2 linked regions of the Homo sapiens genome follow. The protein of the gene in region 1 interacts with the protein of each later gene in a pairwise test. Each region holds a gene or a part of one and is shown on either strand. Other genes may lie near its edges.

What was found.
Region 2: the proteins of HPRT1 (region 1) and EEF2KMT interact in binary tests that used the Homo sapiens proteins (3 or more experiments, as listed by UniProt).

What each region holds. Positions count from the first base shown.
Region 1 is NC_000023.11:134,498,098-134,501,297, reverse strand, and holds the end of HPRT1 (hypoxanthine-guanine phosphoribosyltransferase), read right to left. Parts: intron 2,909-3,200; coding exon 2,862-2,908; intron 2,691-2,861; coding exon 2,614-2,690; intron 1,269-2,613; coding exon 1,221-1,268; 3' UTR 630-1,220; downstream 1-629. UniProt on the Homo sapiens protein: Converts guanine to guanosine monophosphate, and hypoxanthine to inosine monophosphate. Transfers the 5-phosphoribosyl group from 5-phosphoribosylpyrophosphate onto the purine.
Region 2 is NC_000016.10:5,083,784-5,087,795, reverse strand, and holds the end of EEF2KMT (protein-lysine N-methyltransferase EEF2KMT), read left to right. Parts: intron 1-416; exon of another isoform or gene 417-2,063; coding exon 2,064-2,164; 3' UTR 2,165-2,914; coding exon of another isoform or gene 2,915-3,046; 3' UTR 3,047-3,512; downstream 3,513-4,012. Other genes in the region: ALG1 (chitobiosyldiphosphodolichol beta-mannosyltransferase), read right to left, coding at 2,915-3,046. UniProt on the Homo sapiens protein: Catalyzes the trimethylation of eukaryotic elongation factor 2 (EEF2) on 'Lys-525'.

The DNA.
Region 1 (3,200 bases):
TTGAACTCCTGAGCTCAAGTGATCCCCCACCCTGGGCTCCCAAAAGTGCTGGGACTACAGGTACGAGCCACTGTGCCCGGCCTACAGCAAACTTTTTAAGGAACACGTGTAAGCTAGATGGCTCCTAAGTTTGATAGTTCATACCTCACGTGGAGCAGATAAGCAATTAAGAGTTTTGGCTTAAAACTTTTCTCCTATTCCCAGAAAACAAAAGGTGTTGTTGTCATTGTTCTTAGTCAATAAAGCACTATCTACACAAAGAAGGTAATAGGACATATCTGAGAACAATCTGTTGAGATGTAGCTGAGATTACAATCTGAAAAACTGAACAGAATTCCAAAAGAAAGCCGTGTTATTTTAGCATAGTAAAATGTAATATAAAGTGTACCATGTGTCTGAAATTTAATGTCTCTGAAGTAGCTAGGAATTTTTGTAGCTCCGCCAACCCATTCTACCACATAATCATTGAGATTACAATTAAACTAGCTACTAAAACTTAACAAACAAGGAAAATGGAACCAACAGAAAACTAAACTAGGTTAATTTGTAGAGAAATGATAACTATGCATAGGTTTTTTTAAAGAGACAGGACTTATTTTAAGGATTTTTAAATTGAATTCATAAAGCAGTTAAATTTTTGGGAATTTATTGATTTGCATTTAAAAGGGAACTGCTGACAAAGATTCACTGGTAATAATTTGAACAAGTTGGAAAATACAGTCAACATTACTGAAACACTACTAAAATAATTCCAGGACAGAACAAAACTTCTTAGATGCTGTCTTTGATGTGAAAATTGACTGCTTCTTACTTTTCTAACACACGGTGGTATAATTAACAATATTCAATCACTTCTATTCTTTCCTGCATATATAAAAATTAAAATACCAATTAAAAAACTAATATATCTTCTCTTTATTTCTTACAGATATGAGTTCAATGTTTCACTCAATAGTGCTGTGGTTTAAGAGAATTTTTTCATTTACAAGTTAAACAACAATCCGCCCAAAGGGAACTGATAGTCTATAGGCTCATAGTGCAAATAAACAGTTTAGGAATGCAGCAACTGACATTTCTAAAGTACAAAACAGATAAAATTCTTAGAAGATACATGCAAAAAGCTCTACTAAGCAGATGGCCACAGAACTAGAACATTGATAATTTTACTGGCGATGTCAATAGGACTCCAGATGTTTCCAAACTCAACTTGAACTCTCATCTTAGGCTTTGTATTTTGCTTTTCCAGTTTCACTAATGACACAAACATGCTATAAAAAAAAATCCAGAAATTCACATTTAAAAAGTATATTCTGAAATGAAAGGCAAGAATAGCATTTTACATATAAGAACACTATTAGTTGTCAGGGTTCTTACTAAACAGAGATAGTACTACTGTATTTTAGATCAGTAACTTTTGGGGAGTGTATCTTTTGAAAACAAAGCAGTAGTCTATCACATTAGTTTAATTTGTTTCTTGTTTTTGTTTTTTTTTTTGAGACGGAGTCTTGCTCTGTCACCCAGACTGGAGTGCAGTGGCACGATCTCTGCTCACTGCAAGCTCTGCCTCCCGGGTTCACGCCATTCTCCTGCCTCAGCCTCCCGAGTAGCTGAGACTATAGGCGCCCGCCACCACCCCAGCTAATTTTTTCTATTTTTTAGTAGAGACGGGGTTTCACCGTGTTAGCCAGGATGGTCTCGATCTCCTGACCTTGTGATCCGCCCGCCTCAGCCTCCCAAAGTGCTGGGATTACAGGCGTGAGCCACCGCGCCCAGTCTGTTTCTTGTCTTAATACGTAGTTTTTTGTTTTTTGTTTTGTTTTGAGACAGAGTCTTGCTCTGTCACCCAGGCTGGAGTGCAGTGGCGTGATGTTGGCTCACTGTAGCCTCTGCCTCCCGGGTTCCAGTGATTCTCCTGCCTCAGCCTCCCAGGTAGCTGGGTTACAGGCACACACCACTACGCCTGGCTAATTTTTGTATTTTTAGTAAAGGTGGGGTTTCATCATGTTTGCCAGGCTGGTCTCGAACTCCTGACCTCAAGTGATCTGTCCGGCTTGGCCTCCCAAAGTGCTAGGATTACAGGTGTGAGCCACCGCAACCAGCCTCAATATGTAGTTTTGAAAGACAAATCAAGGAGATAATTTCAAGCATATCAAAGTGGGAGGCCAGTGTACGTGGCAAAAAAAGATGGAGTAAAAAACCTGCTTTAGGTAGTGTACTGTTGCAGTCTTCCTAAATCTTCCTCAACCATGTTCATAAACACATCCATGGGACTTCTGCCTCCAGAGTAAGAGGCAGGTATTCAAAGGACAGTGAATTAAAAGACTAAACTCGATCATTTATTTCTTACTTATGACCACATTTATCATCTGAAATAATAATGCAACAATTATTGTATATTAAAGCTGTTCAACTATTTCAGCCAACAAGAAGTGTCACCCTAGCCTGGCCAGGTTCCAGTTCTAAGGACGTCTGTACTAGACTACAGCTTTATGTGACTAATGGGAACCATCAGTCTGTTCAAATTATGAGGTGCTGGAAGGAGAAAACAATTCTCTTTCCTAAATTTTTATGCGTGTTTTGAAAAATGAGTGAGAAAAAGAAGCAATTACTTACATTCAAATCCCTGAAGTATTCATTATAGTCAAGGGCATATCCTACAACAAACTTGTCTGGAATTTCAAATCCAACAACTAAAAAGAATCATAATTCATCATTTAGATAAAGAAAACATCACTTTTAAATCTAATACTGGCAAATGTGCCTCTCTACAAATATTCTCTAAGCAATTATAAGCCATTTCACATAAAACTCTTTTAGGTTAAAGATGGTTAAATGATTGACAAAAAAAGTAATTCACTTACAGTCTGGCTTATATCCAACACTTCGTGGGGTCCTTTTCACCAGCAAGCTGTTAATTACAAAATGTGACATATAACATACAGAGAGACTACAGGGCATTACAAAAGAGAAGACTGACGTTTCTAAACACTGTTTCATTTCATCCGTGCTGAGTGTACCATGGTCACTTTTAACACACCCAAGGAAAGACTATGAAATGGAGAGCTAAATTATGGGGATTACTAGGAAGGGGCAGCAATGAGTTGACACTACAGACAAGGCACTTGGTTGATCACCTGGAACCTGAAGGACAGTTCTGAGACCTGCACCCTGACTACCCATGTGTCCATTGAAGGGGAGCT
Region 2 (4,012 bases), on another chromosome or scaffold:
AGAGTCTGGCTTTGTATTGCCCAGGCTGGAGTGCAGTGGTGCCATCTCGGCCCACTGCAACCTCCCACCTCCCAGGTTCAAGCTATCCTCCCATCTCAGCCTCCTGAGTAGCTGGGACTACAGGCACGTGCTACCACACCTGGCTATTTTTTGTATTGTTTGTAGAGTTGAGGTTTCGCCATGTTGGCCAGGCTGGTCTTGAACTCCTGACCTCAAGTGATCTGCCGCCTCAGCCTCCCAAAGTGTTAGGAATACGGGCGTGAGCTACTGCGCCCAACCCCATTTTTGTTTAAAAACTAATAATAATCACCCACACATGGTTATGAGTACCTATATTCCCAACTCCTCAGGAGGCTGACGCGGGAGGATGGCTTAAGCCCAGGAGTTTGTGGCCACCTTGAGCAACATAGCGAGACTTCATCTCAAAACAAAATTTATCACAATAATCATTTTCACATAAGTATACCTATAGGGGAAAACCTAGAATATACATATAGCAGTCTTGTCCAACTTGCGGCCCAACGCAAATCTGTAAACTTTCTTCAAACAGTACGAGGTTTTTTTGTGATTTTTTTTCTTTTAGCTCATCAGGTATTGCTAGTGTTAGTGTATTTTATGCGTGGCCCAAGGCGATTCTTCTTCTTCCAGTGTGGCACAGGGAGGCCAAAAGATTGGACATCCCTGATATACACATTAACAGGTGCCATCCTTGGATGGCAGGATTATAGAGATTTCTACACATTCATGTCTGTACTACTTCATTCTTATAAATACGCATTTTCCACTCGTAACAAAAAACTGTGATTGAAAATCGTCCCGGGTCACAGTGTCTCACGCCTGTAATCCCAACACTGTAAGAGGCTGAGGCTTTGGGAGGCTGAGGTGAGCAGATCACGGGAGGTCGAGTTCAAGACCAGCCTGGCCCACATGGTGAAACCCCATCTCTACTAAAAACACAAAAATTAGCCAGGCGTGGTGGTGCACGCCTATAGTCAAAGCTACTCGGGAGACTGAGGCAGGAGAATCACTTGAACCTGGGAGGCGTTGCAGTGAGCTGAGATTGTGCCACTGCACTCCAGCCTGGGGAACAGAGTAAAACTTCGTCTAAAAACAAATAATAAAAGAGGCTGAGGCAGGAGCATCACTTGAGGCCATGCGTTCAGGACCCCATCTCTACAAAATAAAAAAATTACTGGCATGGTGGCACGCACCTGTCATCCCAGCTACTCAGGAAGTGGGAGGATTGCTAGAGCCCAGGAGTCGAGGCTGTAGTGAGCAATGACTGTGCCACTGCACTCCAGCCTGGGTGACAGAACAAGATCATATCTCAAAACAAAAAAAAAGAATCATTCTGGCTAACGGCTCTTCAGACATCTGTGCTTATGAGAACAGCAGCCCCTTCTAAGCTGTGTGTGTGTGTGGGTGTGTGTGTGGTGCGTGTGGTTTTTTTTTTTTTTTTTTGAGACTTAGTCTCACCCTGTCACTCAGGCTGGAGTGCAGTGGCACAATCTCAGCTCACTGCAACCTCCACCTCCTGGGTTCAAGCAATTCTCCCACCTCAGCCTCCCAAGTAGCTGGGATTACAGGCACTCGCCATCATGCCTGGCTAATTTCTGTATTTTTGTAGAGATGGGATTTCACCATGTTGGCCAGGCTGGTCTCGAACTCCTGACCTCAAGTGATCCGCCCGCCTTGGCCTCCCAAAGTGTTGGGATTACAGGCATGAGCCACTGTGCCCGGCCGCTTTCTAAGCTTTGTGAAGAGTGGGTTGACTATTCAGATCTCTGCTTCTGTCCCGCTGTGCCAAGTGCTGGGGCAGACACAGGCAGAGAGTGGACAGCGGCACGGTGCCTGCTGCTAGCCATTTCTATGCAAAACCAGCTTTCTGGTCCCATCCTGGAGGCCAATTCTAGGCACCTGGGTGGGCCTGGGAACCTGTGAACCAAGTAAACTGACTTGGACACCCCCCTACCCCGCCAGGCCTGTCCTAGCAGCCCCACACAATACCCTCATGTCCTGTCCCCAAACACCGCCATCCTCAAACACATGTGCTCTGTTTCCAGGCCGGGCCGGGATCAGATGGGAAGTGGAACCTCGTCATGAGCAGAAACTGTTTCCCTACGAAGAGCACTTGGAGATGGCAATGCTGAATCTCACCCTGTAGGACTCACACACGACTCCAACGGGATTGTGAGAATCAAGTCACTCTCATGGGAAGAATTTTTATATGGGAAAGCGGATAAAACTTTCATTGGACTGGAATGTTTGGAGAATGTTAATTTCCAAATCAGGAACCACAAACTGCCCTCTAATAAGACATCGGCTATCTAAGCGTGTGGGTGCCCCCTTTCTGCCAGCAGTTCTGGTTCTTAAGAAAATCACCATAAATCAGACATGAAAATTCTGGCTCCAAAAATAGCATTTTCTTTGTGCAAATAAAAACGTGTGTATCAAGTATGATGTTCCCCCAACGTGGACACACTCAGTTCCTCACAAAGCCAAGCCCACTGCAGCTGCCACATCCCTGGGCTTACGGTGCAGCAGGTGCTTTTTTCAAGACAGGAATCAAAATGTTAGGAACACGGCAGAAAGGGGACACCTGGAGACCAAACGCAGGATGAGGAGTTCTGCAGAGGTCACAGGGAAGTCACAGAACAGTAATACGCTAGCAGGGGCATGGGGCGTGAAGAACAGAAGAAGAGAGGAAGCGTTTCCAAGCCTCCAGAGAAGAAATCAAGGCCAACCAAAGCTTCCCGGGTCACAGAACCAATTCTTTTACCAGGCAGTACCACTGCTGTCATTTCAGCTTCTGGCCACTGGGAGGTGCTGCTCGAAAGGGTTTGCCCTGAGACTCCAAGAAGAAGCTGCGGGAAGGACAGCAGGGGTCCTGGGGTTTTAGCCTCTGGCCCAGGAGTTATGTGTCCATAACCAAAGGGAGCACAGTCTGCACCCAGCTCTCATCCCATCGGAGCTGCTGCGACTCCCGCAGGTTCTTCCGGAACTGGTTTAGCTTGCCCGCAGGATCAGGAAAGTTTGAGAAAAGCATCTGCAAAAAAATAAAGAGCAGAGCTTACCTCATTGCCTGTCCCCACCCCATCCCAGGTCACCACCTGGCTGACCCCAGGTCCCCGACCCAACAACAACCCCTCCCAAGTCCCTAACTCCCTCACTTGGACTCGAGACCCTTCACACCCCAGCAGCACTCCGCCTCCAACTTGACATCACAGTTTCTGGAAACTTCCCCGCATGTCCCACTTTCCCACACTTGGTGCCCTGGAGCACCTCCCGGCCTCTACGTGCTGCCCATTCCCCTGTGAGCACCCTCCTCTCGGCCTCTGGCCAACGCAGTCTCACCCATCTGTGGGTAACAAGGGGGTGTCGGTGTTCTTTGCAGCCTTGCTAAACTGTCTGAATCAAGGATCACAAACTACAGCCTGCAGGCCAAATCCAGCCCACAGCCTGTGTTTGTAAATAAAGTTTTATTGGAACAAAGCCACACCCCTTAATCTACAGATGATCTGTGGCTACTTTCACACCCCAACAGAGTACCATGGTTCTGACAGAGACTGGGGAACCCAGTCTAAACGACTTCCGACCTGGACCTTTACTGAAAATCCTGCCAATCATTCTGTTGGCAAGAATGATGTATTACTTTTTGCAATAAGAAACAAGTAACCTTTGCAGAATTCCACCCATCTTTCAAGGCTGGTCCCAGAAGCTCCCTTTGCCCGCCCACCTACGTGATCCTGATCACTTCCTCAACCGCAGCCCGGCCCACCCAGCTCCAGCATCATTTGTGGAGTGTCAGCTCCATAAATCCAGAGGGCAGGTGGGGGTGTGTCTTAACTTTCCCGAGCCTACTGTACCGAAACGGGACAGCAGAGTGGGCCAGCCTCTGTGACCTCTGCTCCCTCCCTAGCTTTTCCGCCAGACCCCACATGGTCCCACCCTGGCTGTGGGAAGCAGGGATCAGGGAGCCTGGCTCGGTGCCAGTCTCCAGAACCCTCCCCAC